Linked DNA regions of Homo sapiens: region 2 is linked to region 1. The links come from fine-mapping of genetic effects on gene expression. A gene starts in region 1. The other region holds a variant in brackets. All regions are shown on one strand. Distances are from middle to middle. Region 1 holds the start of IL12RB1 (interleukin 12 receptor subunit beta 1). Region 2 overlaps IL12RB1 (interleukin 12 receptor subunit beta 1).

Evidence for each region. PIP is the estimated chance that this variant, and not a neighbour inherited with it, causes the effect.
Region 2: its variant is fine-mapped to the expression of IL12RB1 in whole blood (TOPMed, PIP above 0.99).

Annotation. Positions count from the first base shown.
Region 1 is chr19:18,083,068-18,091,067 of GRCh38, forward strand. It overlaps IL12RB1 (interleukin 12 receptor subunit beta 1), which reads right to left and starts at 3,867. Exons shown (of 17, transcript NM_005535.3): 1 at 3,693-3,867; 2 at 365-424. The coding sequence starts at 3,756. RefSeq lists enhancers at 3,779-4,128, 4,139-4,198.
Region 2 is chr19:18,044,370-18,060,610 of GRCh38, forward strand. It overlaps IL12RB1 (interleukin 12 receptor subunit beta 1), which reads right to left. Exons shown (of 17, transcript NM_005535.3): 16 at 15,525-15,716; 17 at 14,626-15,244. The coding sequence ends at 15,239. It also overlaps the pseudogene RPS18P13. Among named protein-coding and RNA genes, the nearest start is that of IL12RB1, 34 kb to the right of the region's middle. RefSeq lists a silencer at 4,999-5,160 and an enhancer at 7,198-7,699. The variant G/A (reference allele first, on the strand shown) is at 12,284.

The sequences.
Region 1 (8,000 bases):
ACAAGACTCCGTCTCAAAAATAAATAAATGAAATAAATGTTCTAATAATTTATCAGGTTGGGGGGGGGGCTTCAAAATGCTTAACAGGTACTTTCTCCCATGTACCGACCAATCTGAACGGACACAGACACCAGCCCTGAGACCATGCTAGGGAAGTGATAATGTTCAGAGAGGCGGCTGGCTACTCCAGGGCAACTTGAACCTGGTAAGAATGGGCCAGCAGGTGGTGGGGTGGGGACTCCCAAGACCACAGGCAGGGCTGGGTCTTTGGCCTGGTGGTGGAGGCCATGGGAGGGGCCGCTGTGGATGGGGTCAGGCAGAGCCCTACATAATCCTCAGCCAACAATGAGGAACTGCCCCGAACCTGAGTCTGCATCCGGATATGGCGGGTCCTGAAAACAGCACTCACTGGTTCTGCAGGCAGCTGCAAAGGCAATGAAGACATAATGACATTCCTGGCCTTGCACTGTGTGGGGAGAAGGGCTCAGCCTTGGGGTCTACACCCAAGTGATCATCAGCCCTCCCACCCACCCACTTTCCCATCTATGCACCCTCCTACCACCACCCATCCATCCATCTGCCCATGTATTTATCTGCCCATCTACCCATCCATCCATGTATTTATTCATCCGTCCACCATCTACCCATCCATCCACCCATGAATTCATCCATTCACCCATCCATCCATCCATCCATCCATCCATCCATCCATGTATTCATCCATCATCCATCCACCCCACCATCCACCCATCTACCCATCCATCCATCCATGTACTCATCCATCCATCCACTCATCTACCCATCCATCTATCCAACCATCCATGTATTCATTCATCCATCCACCCATCTATCCATCCATCCATCCACCTCACCATCCACCCATTCACCCATCCATCCATGTATTCATCCATCCATGTATTCATCCATCCATGCACCCATCTACCCATCCATCCATCCATCCATCCATCCATCCATCCACCCCACCATCCACCCATTTACCCATCCATCCATGTATTTATCCATCCATGTATTCATCCATCCATCCACGCATCTACCCATCCATCTATCCATCCATGTGTTCATTCATCCATCTACTCATCCATCCATCTGCCCCACCATCCATCCATCCACGTATTCATACATCCATCCATCCACCCCACCATCCGTCCATCCATCCACGTATTCATCCATCCATCCATCCACCCCCCATCCATCTATCCATCCATCCATCCATCCATCCATCCATCCATCAATCCATGTATTAATCCATGCATCCACCCCACCATCCACCCATTTATCCGTCCATTCGTCCATTCATCCATCCATCCATGTATTAATCCATCCATCCATCCATCCATCCATCCCACCATCCACCCATTCACCCATCCATCCATGTATTCATTAGTCCATCCATCCATCCATCCATCCATGTATTTATCCATGCATCCATGCATTCATTAATCCATTATCCATTCACCCAACCATCCATCTATCCATCTAGTCACCAATCTATCCATCTATCCATCCACGTATTCATTCATCCATACACCCACCCATCCATCCATTTATCTACCTACCGATATATCCATCCAGCCATCCATCCATCCATCCATCCATCCATCCATCCATCCATACATACATACATGTATTTATTAATTCATCCATCCATTCATTTACCCACCCATCCACCTGTCTATCCATTCATCCACCACCCTTTAGTCCTCAGAGGTTGAGATGCATATTTGGGAGACACTCTCGGGAGGTACCCCTGCAGGAAAGAACAGTAAGACCAACAGTCTGGAGGGCAGAGAGAAGTGGAGGTGTGCCTGGGGTGGCACCAGTGTCTGAAGCCAGCATGGGGAAAGACAGTAGAGGGTGCATGGCAGGGAGAGGCCTGCCAGGGCTGGCCCAGGCAAGCACACTTGGCCCACTAGCAGTCAGGGCAATTATTAATAACATTTCTCCAGGAGGCAGCGACCTCCCTCAGCCACTGGGATCCCCGTGCCCTTTGGGATTGCCACAGTCTGCTAGGTGTGGAACTGGGTGAGAGAAGGAGGGGGATGCCACCATGGATGGGTCAGGAAGACCCCGGCGCCCTCACTCCCACAAGAAGGACCTGTCCTGAGCCCTGCAGGCAGATTGGAAGCCTTGGGGGAGAAGGCGGCACCCCAGGAAACAGCCCCAAGTGTCCAACCTTGAGGGGGGAAAGATGCTTAACACACAAGGCTCTCCATCCTTCCATCTCTCTCTGTGATGACACAGAACCCCCACCCACCCACCCACCCCTGAGAGCCTAAAGCCCATCCTCCTTCCCTTTCCCTGGACTGACCACTCACTGCCACTATCTCCAGGATACCTCGTGGGCTGCCTCTCGCCCCCTCCCTGCTGCTGGTCTCCAGCCATGCCTGGCCCCTGAAGGCGCTGGGACCTTGAGGTGTGGCCAGCACTGCTGTGGGCATTCTACAGGCACTCAGTGCATCTCAAGAGCCATTGAAAAAGTCAGCACCCCGCTGATCCCCAGTGTACAGAGAAGGAAAGTTTATTTATTATTATTATTATTGAGATAGAGTCTTGCTCTGCCACACAGGCTGGAATGCAGTGCTGCAATCTCGGCTCACTGCAACCTCTGCCTCCTGGGTTCAAGCGATCCTCCCACCTCAGCTCCTAAGTAGCTGGGAGTACAGGTGCCCATCATCAAGCCTGGCTAATTTTTGCATTTTTAGTAGAGATGGGGTTTCACCATGTTAGCCAGGCTGGTCTCGAACTCCTGACCTCAAGTGATCCACCCATCTTGGCCTCCCATAGTGCTGGATTTTCAGGAGTGAGTCACCGTGCAGGGCCTGAGATTATTAAAAGTATATGGGAAGGCTGGGCATGGTGGCTCATGCCTGTAATCTGAGCACTTTGGGAGGCCAAGGTGAGTGGATCATTTGAGCCCAGGAGTTCGAGACCAGCCTGGGCAACACAGCGAGACGCTGTCTCTGTAAAAAGTATACACCAAAAAAATTAACCAGGCATGGTAGTGTGCACCTGCAGTCCCAGCTACTCAAGGGGCTAAGGCAGGAGGATCACTTGAGCCCAGGTGGTCAAGGCTGCAATGAGTTATGATTAGGCCACTGCACTCCAGCCTGGGACACAGAGTGAGACCCTACCTCAGTAAATAAATAAATAAATAAATAAATAAATAAATAAATAAATAAATAAGTAAAGTATACGGAAGGATGTGCATAGGTTATATGCAAATACTTTACCATTTTATATCAGGAACTTGAGCATCTTTGGATTTTGGTATCTGCAGAGGGTCCTGGAACCATTGCCCCGTAAATATGGAAATGACTGTATACATTATATTATGTATGTCTATCTATTGTAAACTACATACATAAGATACTATACTATGTATACCTATTAGATACATACTTGCTTTTTATTCCTTCCTTAGTTTTTTTTCTCATTGAACTCCGGGAGGTGGAAAAAATTTAGTGCATTTCACAGAAGAGAAAATCTAGACCAGAGGAAAGATGTCTAAGTTCGATCCCAGAAGCCATGACTGCCCATCTCCCATTTGACAGCAGGAAAGACTGAGGCACAGAGAGATGAAACCAACCCACACAGCAGGCCCACAGCTCTCCACACATACACGTGCCTCCACCCAGCAAGAGGAGCCGCCATGCCAGGGTCAGGGGACTCACCGCCCTGCCTGGACAGCAGGAAGAGGAAGAGGAGGGGGACCACCCAGGTCACCAGCGGCTCCATCGGATCCACGTAGAGCCCCACAGCCCCAGGGGAGCCTCTCTGCCACCTGCGAGGTTCAGCCACCCCGTCCCCACTCCGGAACACATTGAAGCTGAGCAAGGAGAAAAGACTGAAAAAAAAGAAAAAAGAAAAAAAGTAAAGTGTCACAGCCCATCCCTAAGGCAAGTCAAAGTGAAAGAGAAACCCAGGAAGTCAGCTCCGTGGTGGTGGTGATGGTGGCGGCCACAGACTCTGGAGCAAGTCTGACTTTGGAGCAAGTCAGGGTTCTAGGGGGTTCTGCCCTGCTGGCCCCAGACCTGAACTGAACACCCAGATGCCAGCCCCATGGGCCCATGGGCCACCTGTGGTTCCATGCACTTGGCCAGGTCTCTGGCCCTCTCTAGCCAATTTTTTTTTTTTTTTTTGAGATGGAGCCCTGCTCTGTCGCCCGGGCTGGAGTGTGGTGGCATGATCTCCACTCACTGCAACTTCTGCCTCCCGGGTTCAAGCAATTCTCCTGCCTCAGCCTCCCGAGTAGCTGGAATTACAGGCAACTGCCACAACATCGAGCTAATTTTTGTATTTTTAGTAGAGACAGGGTTTCACCATGCTGGCCAGGCTGGTCTCGAACTCCTAACCCTAAGTGATCCACCCACCTCAGCCTCCCAAAGTGCTGGGATGACAGGCGTGAGCTACCGTGCCTGGCTGCCAAATTCTTTTTTTCTTCTTTTGAGATAGGGTCTTGATCTGTGGCCCAGCTGTAGTGCAGTGGTGCAATCACGGCTCACTGCAACATCAACCTCCCCAGGCTCAGGCCATCCTCCTACCTCAGCCTCCCCAGGAACTGGGACTACAGGCATGCACCACCACGCCCAGCTAATTTTTGCATTTTTTTTTTTTTAAGAGAGGGGGTTTTGCCATGTTGCCCAGGCTGGTCTCAAACTCCCGGGTTCAAATGATCCGTCCGCCTTGGCCTACCAAAATTCTGGGATCACAGGCGTGAGCCACCGCACCGGGCCATCTCGCCAGCTTCTGAATCTGAGACTCAAGAGCTGAAGGAGGGCAGTGTTCTTGGATGGCCTAATTTCATCCTTCCAACAAATTGTTACAAAGAGCTTGCAGCATGCTGGCCCTCCACAATGCCCACCTCCCCACATGCCAAGCTCCAGCCTTGTGCACCTGGGCTCACCCCTCTAATCCCAGCACTTTGAGAGGTCGAGGTGGGAGGATCACTTGACCCCAGGAGTTTGGGTCTACCTAAACAACATAGCAAGACCCCATCTCTATAAAAAATAAAGAATTAGGCCAGGCGCGGTGGCTCACGCCTGTAATCCCAGTACTTTGGGAGGCCAAGGCAGGTGGATCACGAGGTCAGGAGTTTGAGACCAGCCTGACCAAAATGGTGAAACCCTGTCTCTACTGAAAATACAAAAATTAACCGGGTGTGGTGGCAGGCACCTGTAATCCCAGCTACTGAGGAGGCTGAGGCAGGAGAATCGCTTGAACCCAGGAGGTGGAGGTTGCAGTGAGCCGAGATCGCGCCACTGCACTCCAGCCTGGGCAACAGAGTGACACTCCATCTCAAAATATATATATATATATAAATTAAAAGTTAGCCAGTCGTGGTGGCACACATCTGTATTCTCAGCTACTCAGGAGGCTGAGGTGGGAGAATGGCTTGAACCCAGGAGGTTGAGGCTGCAGTGAATCGTGATTGTGCCACTGCACTCCAGTCTGGGTAACAGAGCAAGATCCTGTCTCTTAAAAAAAAAAAAAAAAAAATTTAAGAGATGCAACTTAGTCTTTCCCCCATGTTCCATTTCTTAGCCTCTGAGTATTTTGTTTCCTGCCCCTCCCTCCCCACTGTCGGCAAAGCCTCTAAATGTCAGTGGAGAAGCTCTGATCCAAGCTACCATGTGGATGAACCCTCAAAAACATAATGCTGGGCTGGGTGCAGTGGTTCACATCTGTAATTCCAACACTTTGGGAGGCCGAGGTGGGCGGATCACCTGAGGTCAGGAGTTTGAGACCAGCCTGGCCAACAAGGCGAAACCCTGTCTCTACTAAAAATACAAAAATTTGCCAGGCCTGGTGACATGTGCCTGTAATTCCAGCTATTCGGGAGGCTGAGGCAGAGAGAATTACTTGAACCTGGGAGGTAGAGGTTGCAGTGAGCTGAGATCGTGCCACTGCACTCCAGCCTGGGTGACAGAGTGAGACTCCATCTCAAAAAAAAAAAAACACACATACACAAAAAAAAAAACCCATCATGCTGGGTGGACGAAGATGGACAGGAAAGGCACACACTGTATGATTCCACTTATATAAAATATCCAAAATAGGCAAATGTACAGAGGCAGACAGTAGCTGAGTGGTTGTCAGGGGCTGGGGGGAGGCGGGAGTGAGAAGTGACTGCTGATGTATGCGGGGTTTCCTTTTGGGGTGATGCAAATGTTCTGGAACCAGATAGAGGTGGTGGTTGCACAACACTGAATGTGCTAAATGTCACTGAATCGTTTGCTTTAAAATGATGAATTTCCGGCCCGGGCGCGGTGGCTCACTCCTGCAATCCCAGCACTTGGGAGGCCGAGCCAGGTGGATCATTTGAGGTCAGGAGTTCGAGACCAGCCTGGACAACACAGTGAAACCCAGTCTCTACTAAAAATACAAAAATTAGCTGGGCGTGATGGCATGCACCTGTAATCCCAGCTACTCAGGAGGCTGAGGCAGGAGAATCGCTTGAACCCGGGAGGCAGAGGTTGCAGTGAGCCGAGATCACACCACTGCACTCCCACCTGGGTGAGAGAGTGAGACTATGTCTCAAAAAAAAAAAAAAAGATGAATTTTAGGTTACGTGAGATGCATCTACAGAAAAAAGAAATATTCTTAGAGTCCAGGGGCACTGAGGAGGGAGAAGGAGAGGGTCTCTCCTGGGGATGAGCATCTGTGGAAACTGAGGCCCAAGTGGCCAGGGTTGTGCAATGCGGTTCAGCTTCCTGGGAGGAGGTCCCTCCTTCAAGAAGCCTGGCTCCGAGGGGCAGCTGAGCTGGCCAGGGTCAGGCGCCCAGCAGGCTATGAGGTCAGTGAGTTAGGGACAAAGACTCAGTGTCCTGGGCCTGGCACAGTGGGGACGGGGGCCCTGTGACCCCATACAGGACAGCCTTCTCTGGCCCCGGGGCCCAGGCCAGGGTCAGCTGGGGGATGGATGTGTGAGGCCTGGGGGAGGGGCAGAGACAGAGAAAGGGACAGAGATAGAGAGATACATAAAGATGGAGGAGGCCAGGCAGGGTGGATTATGCCTGTAATCCAGCACTTTGTGAGGCCAAGGCAGGAGGATTGCTGTAGGCTAGGAGTTCAAGAGCAGCCTGGGCAACATGGTGAGACTCCATCTCTACAAAAAATAATTTGCTGGGCATGGTGGCAGGTGCCTGTAGTCCCAGCTACCTGGGAGGCTGAGGCTTAAGCCAGGGAGGTCGAGACTGCAGTGAGCTCTAATTGCGCCACTGCACTCCAGCCTGGGCCACAGAGCAAGACCCTGCTCAAAAAATAACAAGAAAGGTGGAGGAAATAGGTAGAGATCAGAGGAAAGTCATGGCCCCCTCCTGACCATCCTGAGACCCTCCCAACTCCACCAATTCCTGGAGAGTCCCTCACTTGCCTTATTTCACAGATTGGGAAACTGAGTCCAGGGGCACTCAGACCACCTGAGGCCCCAGCTGGAGATGAAGAGATGGATTCAAACCACCCCTTGTGGAGTATAGTTTTGCCCCTTCCAGAGTGGAGACCGTGCCTCAGGGCTTCCCCCACCCGCACCAAGGTTGGCCCTCTCAGGCCTCATCTTTCCCACCTGCAAAATGGGCTTTTGTGAGTATGAAGGAGGGCTTGGCTTGCAGTGAGCGCTGTCCACCCGCTGGCCAGTGTGATTAGTCATTGTTGTTGTTCCCCAGTGGCCTCTGCCTGGCAGCTGCTGGAAAAACATCGAGGGAGGGAGATACAGGGCTGGGGAGGTGAAAAGCTGGACACAGACGCCCCTAGCCCCTTGGGATCAGGAACAGATGGAGGCCGGGTGCCCTGAAGTGGAGCAGGGAGGACTGCCTGGAGGAGGGACACTTGAGCTAGAATGTATAGAATTACAGGGCATCTCCGGCAGAGGCCACAGCAGAGGCAAAAGTCCAGAGGAGGTGCTTTGGGGACCACCAAGATGGACACAGTGGGTCTGGGTTTCTGTGGGGTGATGGGCTGGGGCCTCGAGCGCCAGGCTAAAG
Region 2 (16,241 bases), 35 kb before region 1:
GCCTATAATCCCAGCACTTTTGGAGGCCGAGGAGAGCGGTTCAGCTGAGGTCAGGGGTTCGAGACCAGCCTGGCCAACATGGCAAAACCCCATCTCTACCAAAAATACAAAAATTAGCTGGGCGTAGTGGCGCATGCCTGTAATCCCAGCTACTCAGGAGGCTGAGGCAGGAGAATTGCTTGAACCCTGGGAGGCGGAGGTTGCAGTGAGCCGAGATCACGCCACTGCACTCCGGCCTGGGTGATGGAGTGAGATTGTTTCAAAAAAAATAAAATAAAATAAAAAATAAGTGGAGGCTGGGCGCAGTGGTTCATGTCTGTAATCCTGGCACTTTGGGAGGCTGAGGCAGGCAGATCACTTGAGGTAAGGAATTTGAGACCAGCCTGGGCAACATGGTGAAACCCTGTCTCTACTAAAAATACAAAAATTAGCCAAGCGTGGTGGCGTGTGCCTGTAGTCCTAGCTACTTTGGAGGCTGAGGCTGCAGTGAGTTTGAACCTGGGAGGCAGAGGTTGCAGTGAGCTGAGATCGCGCCACTGTACTCCAGCCTGAGCGACAGAGCAAGACTCTTCTCAAAAAAAAAAAAAAAAAAGACTAAGTGGAGATGAGGGTTCAGTGCACCCCCATCTCCTGGCCCTGCTGCCCATGAGCCAGACCCTGAGCTGACAGATTGGTGCCCATTTCCTCTTATGGATTGATACGGGGCTCTTACCTCTGGGTTTGCTCAGCCCAGCAGCAGGCAGTCAGAGCCAGAAGTTGTTTGCAAACCGAAACCGGTCTGCGGCTTGGGCCACCTACTTGTGAAACCAGCTGTCGCTGTTTTTCCTCCCTGTGAGAAAGTCCCCCAGTAAAGCTGCGCGGGGGAGGAGAAGGAGGGTGGAGGAGGGCCGAGTAGCTTCCTGGGAGACCTTGGGGTGTGGAGGCGCTGCTCTGGACTTTGGTTTGCCCATCTGCAACTGGGCACCATGGGGAAAGGGGATTGCAGGCTCCTGGCTGGGGAGTTTGGATTTGGGGATGCTGGACAAGTGACTTCACCTCTCTGAGCCTCAGTTTCCTTATCTGTGAACTAGTGAGAAACACATGGCCACCAGAGCTGCTGCAAAGGGGCATGTCCCTCTCTTCATTCAGGCCTTGGCCCCAAATGTCGCCTATTCCAGGAAGCCCTCCAGGACTGCCTGATCAGGAAACACCCTCCCTCTGCTGCATCTGGTCATGTATTCTACTTTATTCATCACACTTTTCAACACCTGATTCCACATTACAGATGCATCGCTTCAGGTGCATAATGTCCTCTGGGTCCCACCTTTGTCCCCAGACCATGAGTCCTACAAGGGCAAGATTGCTCTCAGTTGTCCCCGGCTGTGTCCCCAGACCACAGCCCAGGGCCTAAAGCACAGCAGGCATCTGGGGAAACATTTCTTTTTATCAGCATAAGATTATTATCTGTGAGCACACTCATTAAGCCCCGGCTGTGTACAGGAGCCAGCGACACCACCATGAATGAGATACAAATTCTTTTTTTTTTCTTTCTTTTTTTTTTTTTAGACGGAGTCTCATTCTGTTGCCCAAGCTGGAGTGCAGTGTGGCACAATCTCAGCTCACTGCAACCTCCACCTCCCAGGCTCAGGTGATTCTCCCGCCTCAGCCTCCCAAGTAGCTGGGATTGGTAGCTGGGACTACAGGCTCCCACCACCACACAGTTAATTTTTGTATTTTTCAGCAGAGATGAGATTTCACCATGTTGGCCAGGCTGGTCTTGAACTCCTGACCTCAAGTGATTCGCTCACCTCAGCCTCCCAAAGTGCTGGGATTATAGGCATGAGTCACCGCGCCTGGCAGAGATACAAATTCCTGATGGCAGAGGAGGGAGAGAGAGTGTGGGTGACGATGACAATTGAACTGAGACCCAAAGGAGGTAGGGGAGACATATGGGCGTCTCTGGGAAGATGGTCCCCGGGAAAGCACAGCCTTTAGACAGGCCCCGAGGCAGGAGCCTGTCTGACTCACCGGAGGAGCTTGGAGGAGGCTGAGGTGGCCTAAGTCGATTAAGCAGGGTGGGGAGGGAAGAGGCGATGGTGCCGTGAGACCAAGCAGGGCCTTGAGGTCTGGGGGGAGAACTTTGGCTTTTACTCTGAGGAAGGTGGGAGCCACAGAGGCTTCTAGACAGAAGAAGGACAAGCCGGACTCAGGATACCAGGGTGGGGGTATCTGTGGGGGATAAAGGGAGAAGCGAGGAGACCACAGAGGGGTGCCACTGCTGGTCCTAAGGAGCAATGATAGTCTGGACCAGGGAGAAGGGACCTTCATGAGAAGGGATCGGATGTGGGAGCAATTTTGATGGTGGATGGGTGGAGGAAGAAGATTCAGGGGCACCAGTGTGAGCCCATCTCACAAGGGAGGAAACTGAGACTCTGGGGACAGAGGGATCTCAGTAAAGGAGAAACTGGAAGAAACCAGTGGAACGTTCAGAGGTGACCAGGGTCCAGGAGGGAGCCCCCGCACCTCCCTGAGTCACAGAGATTGCCAGCTTCCTCCTGATGCAACCTGACCTTCCATCTCTCTCTTTGTTTGTTTGTTTGTTTGTTTTGAGACAGAGTCTCACTCTGTCACCCAGGCTGGGGTGCAGTGGCACGATCCCTGCTCACTGCAACCTCTACCTCCCATGTTCAAGCAATTCTACTGCTTCAGCCTCCAAAGTAGCTGGGATTACAGATACACACCACCACACTGGGCTAATTTTTGTATCTTTAGTAGAGACGGGGTTTCGCCATGTTGGCCAGGGTGATCTTGAACCCCTGACCTCAAGTGATCTGCCTGTCTTGGCCTCCCAAAGTGCTGGGATTACAGGCGTGAGCCACCGCACCCGGCCTCTCTTTGATTTTATCTCTATAATTTCCATCCCTGTCAGAGGGAAGAGGCTCCACCACCTACAGACACCGATAGGCCTGACTCGGCTTCCCACAGATTCATTTACTAACCCCAAACCCCAAGACATGGGTACCAACACTGTTTTACAGATGGGGAAACTGAGGCTCATATAGGCGAAGTGGTTTTCCAGGCAGAGGCAGGATTAGAACCCTGAGCCTTGGCTCTAGACCCCTGCTCTTGAGATGGCACTCTGCTGGGGGTCATCAAACATTCCACCCCGAGATGCATTATTCCTTTCCCAGCTTCTGAGAACTTGGGCTTGGGTGGGAGCCCCCTGCAACGTGCTAAAAATCCAGGTTTAGGCATTTTTTTAATGTAAAAAAATATTTACTTATCATCCAGGCACGGTGGCTTACGCCTGTAATCCCAGCACTTTGGGAGGCCGAGGTGGGCAGATCATTTGAGGTCAGGAGTTCAAGACCAGTCTGGACAACATGGCGAAACCTCGTCTCTACTAAAAATACAAAAATTAGCCAGGTGTGGTGGCGCACGCCTGTAATCTCAGTTACTACAGAGGCTGAGGCAGGAGAAATCGCTTGAACCCAGGAGGAAGAGGTTACTGTGAGCCGAGATCCTGCCACTGCACTCCAGCCTGGGCAACAGAGCAAGACTTCATCACAAACAAATGAACAAACAAAACTTATTTATTTTCTAGAAACAGGGTCTCGCTCTATCACCCAGGCTGGAGTACATTGGCATGATCATAGCTCATTGCAGCCTCAAACTCCTGGACTCAAGCGATCCTCCCACCTCAGCCTCCCTGAGTAGCTGGGACTACAGGCACCTGCCACCATGCCCAGCTACATTTTTTCAATTTTTTGGAGAGACAGGATCTTACTACATTGCCCAGGCTAGTCTCGAACTCCTGGGCTCAAACAATCCTACAGCCTCGGCCTCCCAAACTGCTGGGATTACAGCCTTGAGCCACCAACCTTGGCCAGATTTAGATTTGTATGGCCTTACGTTTCTGAGTTTGTAAGATTATATACGATTCATTTGTTCATTCATGTTCATTCATTCCTGGCCACATCCAGGTGCCTGCCTTATTTGGGGTAATGCTCGAGGCCCCAGCTTGGGAAGGTCCAGGCTGGATAGAGATATTCTTGTTCCCACAGGGTCAAGGCTAGGCTGGAGGGAGGTACCCAGGGCTGGGGGTCCCCAGCGATCCAGGAAGTGGGGGGCTTGCTGAAGAAGGGAACCTCATGCCAAAGGCCTGGGTCCCTTCCTCCTCATGCCCACCACCCCCATGACGAAAGCCAGAGAGGATGAGGGCAATGTGGGGCTTCCATACCCCAAATATGATCCTGGTGCCTGGTATGGAACCCCAGAGCCTGCCACCGTGTCTCTAGTGATCCTTGAAAAGTTCCAGCATATTTTGGGAGTACTCAACACCAACATCGATGGGTGGTGGAAAATAGCCTTTGCTATCACTGCCATTAAAGGTGTGGATGGAAGATACGCTTATGTGGTGTTGAGGAAAACAGACATTGACCTCACCAAGAGGGCGGGAGACTCACGGAGGATGAGATGGAATGAGTGATCACCATTGTGCAGAATCCACAGCAGTACAAGATCCCAGACTGGCTCTTGAACAGACAGAAGGATGTAAAGGATGGAAAATATAGCCAGGTCCTAGCCAGTGGTCTGGACAACAAGCTCCGTGAAGACCTGGAGCAACCGAAGAAGATTCCGGCCCATAGAGGGATGCACCACTTCTGGGGCCTTCATGTCTGAGGCCAGCACACCGAGACCATTGGCCGCCATGGCCGTACCTGTACCGTGGGTGTATCCAAGAAGAAATAAGTCTGTAGGCCTTATCTGTTAATAAATAGTTTATGGCCGGGCGCGGTGGCTCACGCCTGTAATCCCAGCACTTTGGGAGGCCGAGGTGGGCGGATCATGAGGTCAGGAGATTGAGACCATCCTGCTAACACGGTGAAACCCTGTCTCTACTAAAAATACAAATAATTAGCCAGGTGTGGTGGCACACGCCTGTAGACCCAGCTACTCTGGAGGCTGAGGCAGGAGAATCTCTTGAACCCGGAAGGCAGACGTTGCAGTGAGCTGAGATCATGCCACTGCACTCCAGCCTGGGCGAAAGAGCAAGACTGTCGCAAAAAAACAAATAGTTTATATACCAAAAAAAAAAAAAGGAAGAGGAAAAAAAACCTGAGCCCAAAGCCTAGCCCTAAACGTCACCTCCGGTCCCCATTCCCGGCTTGCACCGGGCAGCAGCCAACACCACGGGGAAGTGGCCTGGGCTTCCCGCCAGACTGCCTGCTGGAAAACTAGCTCTGGGAGGTGGGGGTGTCACCATCCAGTATGTGAGGGTGGAACCTTCTGGGCTGACCATTTATGGGACAGGCCCCTAGAATGGGAGGCCCAGGACAGCCGGAGAGCCACAGAGCCCAGCAGCTGGACCAGGGTGACCATGATGCCACTGGGGCTGGGACACCTGCACGAGACTCTTCAGGAATAAGCCCCTATTTCCCCACCTAAAAATGGAAGTGGGGCCGGGCACAGTGGCTCACGCCTGTAATCCCAGCACTTTGGGAGGCCGAGGCGGGTGGATCACTTGAGGTCAGGAGTTCGAGACCAGCCTGACCAACATGGTGAAACCCCGTGTCTACAAAAATACAAAAATTAGCCAGGCATCATGGTGGGGGGCCTGTAATCCCAGCTACTCAGGAAGCTGAGGGAGGAGAATCACTTGAACTGGGAAACAGAGGTTGCAGTGAGCAGAGATTGTGCCCCTGCCCTCCAGCCTGGGCCACAGAGCGAGACTCTGTCTCCAAAAGTAAAAAAAGAGACAAATAAACAGAGAAACAAGGAGAGACAGAGGCAGTGAGAGACAGAGACACAGAGAGATACACAGGGAGACACAGAGACAGGTGAAACAGAGACAGAGAGAGATGAGACAGAAACACACAGAGAGACAGACACAGAGAAACAGGGAAAGAGAGAAAGGGAGACACAGGGAGACAGAGACAGAGAGACAGAAGTGAGACAGAGAGATGAGACAAAGAGACAGAGAGAGAGACAGGGAGAGAGATGAGAAATGAGATAAAGAGAAAGATGACACAAATATTTTGGGAGGCTGAGGGGGGAGGATTGCTGGAGGCCAGGAATTAGAGACCAGCCTGGGCAACATAATGAGACCCTTATCTCTACAAAAAGAAAAAGAAAAAAAAAGATGGCAAAGAAAGAGACAAGGAGAGAGACAGAGAGACAAAACACAAAGATAGAGAGAGAGGGGCACAGGGAGAAAGAGACAAAGAGGGGCAAGACAAGCCAGGTGCGATGGCTCACTCCTGTAATCCAAGCACTTTGGGAGGCCGAGGAGGGCGGATTACCTGAGGCCAGAGAGTTCAAGATCAGCCTGACCAACATGGTGAAACCCCGTCTCTACTAAAAATACAAAAATTAGCATAGTAGGGTGGCGCACGCCTGTGATCTCAGCTACTTGGGAGGTTGAGGCAGGAGAATCTCTTGAACCTGGGAGGTGGAGGTTGCAGTGAGCCAAGATCACGCCATTGCACTCCAGCCTGGGCAATAGAGTGAGACTCTGTCTCAAAAAATTAAAAAAAAAAAAATTAAAAAAAAAAATAAAAGCAAGTCAGAGAAATAGAGACAGAGAGACAGGAAGAGATGAGAAATGAGAGATAGGGAGAGACAGGGAGGGAGGAAGGAAATAGGAAGCTGGGGGTGGGGCCAGGACACAGTGGCTCATGCTTGTAATCCCAGCACTTTGGGAGGCTGAGATGGGAGGACTGCTTGAGGCCAGGAATCTGAGACCAGCCTGAGCAGCAGAGTGAGTGCTCTTTCTACAAAAAATACAAAAATTAGCTGGGCTTGGTGGCACACACCTGCGGTCTCAGCTACTTGGAAGGCTGAGGTGGGAGGATTGTTTGAGCCCAGGAGGCTGCAGTGAGCTATGATCACACCACTGCACTCCAGCCTCTGGGTGACAGACAGAGACAGTGTCTCAAAATAAAACAAAATGAAAATTAGCCAGGCATGGTGGCGGGCACTTGTAATCCCAGCCACTCGGAAGGCTGAGGCAGGAGAATCGCTTGAACCTGGGAGGTGAAGATTGCAGTGAGCCGAGATCGCACCAGCCTGGGAAAGGAGAGCAAAACTCCGTCTCAGAATAATAATAAAATAAAATAAAGATCACTCCTGTTTAGTTGGTTAAGAAGAAAAAAAAAAGAGGTTAGGGGTACAAGACCAGCCACTGGGAGAAGAGGGCCCTCCTACCCGGCCAGAGGAGCCCCCTGCCTGGAGCTCCTGATCCCAGCACATAAGGTTTAATATTATTAAAGGTGATGATATCTTGGAGGGTTGGGCACCTCGTTCACCTAGCTCCTTCTCACCTCTCATAGGCCTCCCCGGGGGGTTAACTACCCCATTGCACCGATGGGGAAACTGAGGCTCGGAGAAGCCCTGGCTGCACAGGCAGTTGGAAGCAGAGCCAGGACTCGGCTGGATCCTTGAGACGTTTGTCGACTGACTGTGTGACCCTTGGCCCCTCCAGTCTCCAACCCGGAGGAGAAACCCGCCCCTCTTCCCGTCCCCCACCCCCAGCCCGCCCGGCGGGTGTTTTTTTTTTCCTCCTCCTGGGTATTTTGGTTTCGGCAGGAACCGCCCCGGGGAGCAGGCGGTTCCCGCTGGCAGGGTCAGCCCAGGGCGGGGACGGGAGCCAGGAGCAGCTCCAGGCCAGGGAAGGTGGGGAGGACTCGGGGAGGAAGCCTGGCCGTGGCCCCGACCACTGGGACCAGGCAGGTCGCGTCCCCATCCCAATCTTCCGGTGCCTCAGTTTCCCCACCTGGAAAGCGGGGCTCTGCGTGATCGCGGCACAGCCCGTGGAGGCGCGTCGCGCATGGGGCCGGGCGGGGTTTCCACGTCTCCGCCAAGGTTCTGTCCACTCAGTTATTAAACATTGATGGATCGGGGACAGAGCCAGAGGCCAGTGCCCCAAACCGGGGCGGGAGGTGGGGAGGGGAGGAGGGGGGAGGGACAGGCCAGAGGTGGGGGCTGGGGGCGGGGAGGATGGGGAGAGGTGCCCGCAAGAGGGGTTTATCAAGATCAGGAGGATTCTCAGGTAGCACACCCAAAGCACAAGCCAGCAAAGGAAAATAGATCAACCCGACTCCACACAATGCAAGACTTTTCTTCTGCAAGGCCACTATTAAGAGAGGCCTGGCACAGTGGCTCACACCTGTAATCCCAGCACTTTGGGAGGTTGAGGCAGGAGGATCGCTTGAGTCCAGGAGTTCAGGATCAGTCTGGACAACATAGTGAGATGAGACCTTGTCTATACAAAAAATATTTAAAAATTAGCCAGGTGTGGTGGTGTGTGCTTGTATAGTCCCAGCTACTGGGGAGGCTGAGGTGGGAGGATCGCTTGAACCCAGGAGTTCGAGGCTGCAGTGAGCTATGATTGCGTTGCTGCACTCCAGCCTGGGCAAAAGAGGGAGACTCTATCTCAAAAAAAAAAAAAAAAATGACAACCCACAGAATGGGAGAATATATGTGCAAATTTTGTATCTGATAAGGGTCAAAAAGATAAATAATCCAGTCAGACATGGTGGCTCACGCCTGTAATCCCAGCACTTTGGAAGGCTGAAGCGGGCAGATCACTCAAGGTCAGGAGTTCAAGACCAGCCTGGCCAACATGGTGAAACATTGTTTCTACTAAAAATACAAAAATTATCCGGGCATGGTGGCTAACGCCTGTAATCCCAGCTACTTGGGAGGCTGAGGCAGGAGAATCGCTTGAATCTGGGAGACAGAGATTGTGGTGAGCCAAGATAACGCCACTGTACTCCAGCCTTGGCATCAGAACATCAAAAAGAAGAAGAAGGAGGAGGAGGAGAAGGAGAAGGATAAGAAGAAAAAGGAGGCCAGGCGCAGTGGCTCACGTCTGTAATCTCAACACTTTGGGAGGCTGAGGTGGGAGGGTTACTTGAGCTCAGGAGTTCCAGAACAGCCTGGCCAACATGGTGAAACTCTGTCTCTAGTAAACATACAAAAATTAGCCGGGCATGGTGGCAAGAGCCTGTAATCCCAGCTACTTGGGAAGCTGAAGCACGAGGATGATCGCTTGAACCCGGGAGGCAGAGGTTGCAGTGATCCGAGATCACGCCACTGCACTGCAGCCTGGGTGACAGAGTGAGATCCTGTCTCAAAAAAAAAAAAAAAAAAAAGAAAAGAAAAAGGAAAATAGCAAGTGTTGATGAGGATGTGGAGAAATTTGAACCCCCATGCCTTGCTGGAGGGAATGTGAAATGGTACAGCTGACGTGGAAAACTTTGGCAGATCTTCCAGAAGTTAAACACAGAATTACCATATGACTCTGTGATTCCACTCCTAGATGTATACGGAGAAAACTGAAAACAGGTGTTTACGCCAAAACTTGTACACAAACTCTCAGAGCTGCGCTATCCACAATAGCCAGAAAATGGAAACCACCGAAATGTCCATTGATGGCTGAGTGGATAAATAAATAGTGACACATCCACACAATGGAATGCTATTCAGCCATCAAAAAGAACGAAACCCTGACACACACTATAATGAGGATGCGTTTCAAAAACATCTGAGTTTCTTTCACAAAAGAACAGACAGAAAGGCCACATATTGTATGATTTCATTGATATGAAATGCCCAGAACAGGCAAATCCATAGAGACAGGAAGCAGATTAGTGGCTGCCAGGGGCTGGGGGAGGGGAACGGGGAGTGGCTACTGATGGCACAGGTTTTCTTTTTGGGGAGATGAAAATGTTCTAGAATTAGGTATGAGTGATGGCTGCACAACCTTGTGATTGTACAAAAACCACTGAATTGTACTTTTTTTTTTTTTTTTTTTTGAGACAGGGTCTCACTCTGTCACTCAGGCTGGAGTGCAGTGGTGCAATTACGGTTCACTGCAGCCTCAACCTCTTGGGCTCAAGTGATCCTCCTGCCTCGGCTTCTCAAAATGCTGGGATTGCAGGCATGAGCCACCACGCTCAGTGTCAACTGTACACTTTAAGAGGGTGAATTGTATGGTGTGTGAATGTATCTTAAAAAAGGAGGAATGGCCGGGCGCAGTGACTCACGCCTGTAATCCCATCACTTTGGGAGGCCAAGGTGGGCAGATCGCCTGAGGTCAGGAGTTTGAGACCAGCCTGGCCAACATGGTGAAACTCCGTCCCTAGCAAAAATACAAAAATTAGCCATGCATGCTTGGTGGTAGGTGCCTGCAGTCCCAGCTACTCCAGAGGCTGAGGCAGAAGAATTGCTTGAACCCAGGAGGTGGGGTTGCAGTGAGCCGAGATCACGCCACTGCACTCCAGCCTCCTGGGCGACAGAGTGAGATTCCATCTAAAAAAAAAAAAAAAAAGAGGAATAAGGCTGGGGCTCAGTGGCTCGTGCCTATAATCTCAACAGTTTGGGAGGCTGAGACAGGAGGATTGCTTGAGCCCAGGAGTTCAAGATTGGTCTGGACAACATAGCAAGACTCTGTTTCTACTTTAAATTTTTTTTTTAAATGAAAGAAATGAGTTAAAAAAGAGAGAGAGAGAAATGGGCAGAGGGCAGAGTTGGAAGAAGGGCCTTCCTGGGCAGAGGGCCTGGCATCTGGGGCACAGATAATAAAGTATCAGGGGCCAGGCCAGGGGCTACCCTGAGTCCAGGGGTCATCTCCTGCAGCTCATGGTTCCCAGAAACCTGACACCTCAGTCCCATCCCGGCTGAAGGGCAGAGGCAGAGACAACATCTGTTTCTGACCAAACCCAGAGGCTACTGGAGAGATAGAGAAGGAAGGTACCTGGGAAGGTAAACTGAGGCAGCCTATCTCTCTGATGGAGACACGCTTCCCACCCAGTAGGTGGGAGCCATGGAGAAGGGAAAAGATGGATCAGGAAAGACAGAGACAGAGGAGGGGAGGTGGGAAGAGGGGCAGGGGCTCTGGAGAGGCTGCCTGACCACATCCATTTTATGGACCAGAAAACTGAGGCCCACAAGATGAATCACTTACTCCCAGCTGAACTGCAGCCAGAATAAACTCTGAACCTCTCACCCGTCAGGACCTGACTCTCCAGCTCCAGGACCCCACAACCCAAGAATAAAACCCTAGCCCGCCAGGCGCGGTGGCTCACGCCTATAATCCCAGCACTTTGGGAGGACGGGGCAGGCGGATCACGAGGTCAGGAGATCGAGACCATCCTGGCCAACATGGTGAAACACCGTCTCTACTAAAAACAGAAAAAGATTAGCCGGGCATGGTGGCGGGCGCCTGTAGTCCTAGCTACTCGGGAGGCTGAGGCAGGAGAATGGCGTGAACCCGGAAGGCAGAGCTTGCAGTGAGCCTAGATCGCGCCACTGCACTCCAGCCTGGGCAACAGAGCGAGACTCCATCTCAAAAAAAAAAAAAACCTAGCCCACGGGTACAGTGGCTCACGCCTGTAATCCCAGCACATTGAGAGGCCAAGACAGGAGGATCACTTGAGCCTAGGAGTTTGAGATCAGCCCAGGCAATATGGTGAGACTCTGTCTCTACAAATAATCAAATAAACTAAGCTGAGCGTGGTGGCACGTGCCTGTGGTTCTAGCTGCACAGGAGGCTGAGGAAGGAGGAACAGTTGAGCCCGAGAGGTCGAGGCTGCAGTGCGCTGTGGTCACGCCACTGCACTCCAGCCTGGGCGACAGAACGAGACCCCATCTCAAAAGAAAAAAAACAGCTCTGGTCCATATGCCCCCAGCCTCACGTGGGCTACAACCTCTTCCCCCATCCCCCGTCCATTCCCCACCAGCAACCTCAGGGCCTTTGCACTCCCTCTTCTGGCCCCTCTTTACCACCTTGGTCCTAGCATTGCCTCCTCCAGGAAGCCCTCCCTCACTGGCTACTCCTCACATCCCCACTCATCACTCTTACGGTTTCTCATAACTCTCTGAGTGATAATTAGATTAGTGTCTGCCTTCCCCACCCAGCTAAGAGCCCCTTATGACCAGGAAGATCCTGACTTGTGCAAGATGGGGCCTGGTATACAGTAGGCACTCAATGCTGGCTTTTTTTTTTTTTTTTTTTGAGACAGGGTCTCACCTTGTCACCCAGGCTGGAGTGCAGTGGCGCGATCTCAGCTCACTGCAACCTTGACCTCCCCAGGTTCAGGTGATTCTCCCACCTCAGCCCTCAGCCTCCCAAGTAGCTGAGACTACAGGCATGTGCCACCAAACCTGGCTAATTTTTGTATTTTTAGTAGAGACGGGGTTTCACCATGTTGGCCAGGCTGGCCTCGAACTCCTGAGCTCAAGCGATCGGCCCGCCTTGGCCTCCCAAAGTGCTGGGATTACAGGTGTGAGCCACCGCGCC[G/A]GACCCTGATTTCTTAAATGAATGAATGAAACTGAGCTGTGAAATGGGGGCTAACACCATCCTGACTCCTGGAGCTGCTGGGAGAAGCTGAGGCAATGGCTGCTCTGAGGAGCCCTGGAGTAATAGTTGCATAGCAGTTGCTCAATAAATACCAGGCCAGGGCCCAGCTAAGCAAACTTGCTGGGCCCATTGAGAAAAGGACTCCAAATCCCTTCCTATTTTATAGACGGGTAAGCAGAGGCCCAGAAAGAACCTCCTGTTGGTCATTTTCTAGGGACAGAAGAAGGACTCAAAGTGGCTTCATCAAACAGGGAACTGAGGCCGGGTGCAGTGGCTCATGCCTGTAATCCCAGCACTTTGGGAGGCCAAGTCAGGTGGATCATTTGAGCTCAGCAGTTCGAGACCAGCCTGGGCAACATGGCAAAACCTTGGCAACAAGGCTTGAGCCTGAGGCTGAGGCTGGAGGATCACTCGATCCTAGGAAGTGGAGGTTGCAGTGAGCCAAGATGGTGCTACTGCACTCCAGCCTGGGCAACAGAGTGAGACCCTGTCTCAAAAAAGAAACAAAAAATAAAAAAAAATATTTATTTATTTATTTATTTATTTATTTATTTTTTGAGACGGAGTCTCGCTCTGTCGCCCAGGCTGGAGTGTAGTGGCACAATCTCGGCTCACTGCAACCACCCCCTTCCAGGTTCAAGCGATTCTCCCGCCTCAGCCTACCAAGTAGCTGGGATTATAGGCGCTTGCCACCACGCCCAGCTAATTTTTGTATTTTTAGTAGAGACGGGGTTTCACCATGTTGGCCGGGCTTGTCTCAAACTCCTGACCTCAGGTGATCAGCCCGCCTCTGCCTCCCAAAGTGCTGGGATTACAGGCGTGAGCCACCATGCCCGGCCTAAAATATTTTTTAAAAACAGGAACCAGATGGAAAATATTGGGTTTCAGGTATGGCTGGATCCAGGAACTAATGCTTCATCTCGGTGCTGCTGTCCTCCCTGCAGGCTCCTCTCTCAGACAGGCATCCCCACGGTAGGAAGGAAAGAGGCTCCAAGCTCCAGGCTTCCCTCTGTCCAGCTCAGTCTCCCGCTAGTGGAAGCAGGGTGTGCATCTTCCCCATGCACTCTGGCAAAAGTCCCAGCTGCTGCCAGTAAACATTGCCTGTCTCCTACTTCTCGCACCCAAGGGACTGTGCATAGGGGTGGGTTTGCAGCCAACTCCAGGGGCCTCCAGGGCTCACACCTGCAATCCCAGCAGTTTGGGAGGCCGAGGCGGGTGGATCACTTGAGGTCTGGAGTTCAAGACGAGCCTGGCCAACATGGTGAAACCCTGTTTCTACTAAAAATACAAACACATTTTAGCTGGTCAGGGTGGCGGGCGCCTGTAATCCCAGCTACTTGGGAGGCTGAGGCAGGAGAATCGCTTGAACCCGGGAGGTTGCCGTGAGCCAAGATCGCGCCATTGCACTCCAGCAACAAGAGCCAAACTCCGTCTCAGAAAAAAGAAAGGAGGATAAACGCTCAAGGGAGGGCATGCCTGGTGGAGGGAACGGCTTGAGCAGAAGCTGGGATGTGGCAGATCCGGAGCGGGGCGGGGGGCATTTGCAGAACTCTGACCAGCCACCGTGTGGCTGGGGCACCGAGATCCAGGCCTCTGTTTCCCTATCTAGATGCATCGATGGGGAAAGGGAGGCCCCCAGACCAAAGGGGCGGGGCCTGGGCCTCTTGCCTCCTGGCCCTATTGGCTGCCAGGGGTCTCTCCCCGAGAGGTCTCATCCTTTTTTTGCCACAAAATTCAGTAGTTCTGGGCTTTTTAACTCCCCTCCTCTGTCTGAAACCGGAAAAGTCTGTTTAGCAAACGCGGTGGGAGGAGGCAGGGCGGGCCCGGCCGGGGAAACGCGCGCCGCTGTTGCCACCTGGTGGCCATGGGGAGAATCTGGACTACCCGCTAATCGCCAGGGCTGGGGTGGGATTTCAGGAGCCCCCCCCCACACCTCGGCTCAGACCGCAGTGGGGATCAGGGGGAGGCGGCTGCAGAACGCGAGGGAGGTGGGGCAGTGTGGGCAGAAAGAGGGAGGATTCAGGGTGTGTAAGGGGGGCAAGGGTCCTGCTGCGAGTTGGTGGGCGTGAGGAGGAAGGAGCGTGGGGGCAAACCACGGTTCCTGTTACCGGAGTGCCCGGCTGCTCCACTCCCCCTAGGCCGTCCCTTCCCCTGCTCAGTCCTAACTTAGTAGGGTTCCAAGCTCTCATCCGGCTCTGTCTCCCCCGGATTAGGTGCTCCTGGAGGAGACCTAGAGGAAGAGATTAATAAATATATGTGGAATGAATGAATGAATGAATGAATGAATTCCAAGGCTCGTGTTTTGAGATTTTGAGCAGGACATTCAAGCTTCAAACAGGAAAAAAATACCCAAGAGGAGGCTCATTTACGATGATTTTGAACAGCTGTGTAAGGTCATTATCACCACCCCCATTTTATAGGGGGGTGAGGGTGGGGTGGGGGGTGGGATGGGAGGACCGTCATTTTTCCCACAAAGTTTACAGCCCCCTTCCCTATATGCCTGGATCCTCCAAGCTACAAGACCCCGCAATGCTGCAGGGAGCCCTTGAGTCCAGACTCCCCATCCAGTGCTCCTGGGGGTGGATGCCCAGCCCAGGGTCCAGGGATCCATCTGAGCCCCCCTTGCCCCCATTCCCAGTCCATTCTACGCCAGAACAGGTAAATGGCAGGGTCTGCTCCTGCCCCACGGATGCCAGGCCCAGCAGGGTGCAGCAGCTTCCATTTCATGGCAGCATCTAGGGTTCCCCCGCAGGATGGGTGGCAACAGGCACGGGGCAGAGAGGAGGCAGGTGCACTGGAGCCTGGAGGAGCTCTGGGTTATTTGGGTCCAAATGTGACTCCTGTGTGTGCTACGTAGCCTCGGGCGAGTCACTCACCCTCTCTGAGCCTCAACGATCACATCTGTAAAGTACAACAGTCATGGTTCCTTTCAGGGGGTGGTTGTAGGGATTTGGTAGGGAATCATGTGAGTGGATGGAATGGGCTGGGTATGCCATAAGTGCTTAATAACCAGCCGTTGTGATTGAGATAGTCGCTCTTCGTGTCTGTAAGACAAAGTGGATGTTTTCGTTTCTCCCTCAGGCCTCCAGGCCCTGATATCCCAGGAGCGATGGATGTCTAGCCCCCCCACCCCCCGGGCAGGGTTGCACCCCTGACCGTCTGGCCCACTGGGCCCCAGGACCTTGGCCTTGCACCTGTCTCCATCCTCCAAGGACAACTCTGTATCCAGGGCCAGCTCAGGGGCACCCTCAGGTAGCTCTGTCTTCTCGAGAGGCTCAGTCCTCTCGCCTTTGTCCCAGGACATCTCTACCACCAGGGCCTCCTGCAGGGATGCCTCTTCCTGGAAGTCCACTGGGTTGATCCACTGCCAAGTCTGCAGAGGGAGGGTAGGGCCACAGCTGTGAGCAGAGCTCTACTTCCCATCCACAGCAGGATGGAACGGACCAGGTCACTGCTGGTTAAATTCTCTAACATCCTGAGACCTGGACGGGTGCAGTGGCTCACACCTGTCATCCCAGCACTTTGGGAGGCTGAGGCGGGTGGATCACTTGAGGTCAGCAGTTTGAGACCAGCCTGGAGAACATGGCCAAACCCCATCTCTACTAAAAATACAAAAATTAGCTGAGCTTGGTTGCGCACGCCTGTAATCCCAGCTACTTGGGAGGCTGAAGCAGGAGAATCGTTTGAACCCGGGAATCAGAGGTTGCAGTGAGCCGAGATGGCGCCACTGCACTCCAGGCTGGGTGACAGAGCGAGACTCCATATATCCTGAGACCGATTTGAGGATGGAGTCTGCCGCACTGACTCCCATTCAGCCCCTCTTAGGAAGAGCACTCCCATCTGTCTTTGGGAAATTTCCCTCCCTCTTTTCACAGATGGTGTGGTTGACAGTGCAGTG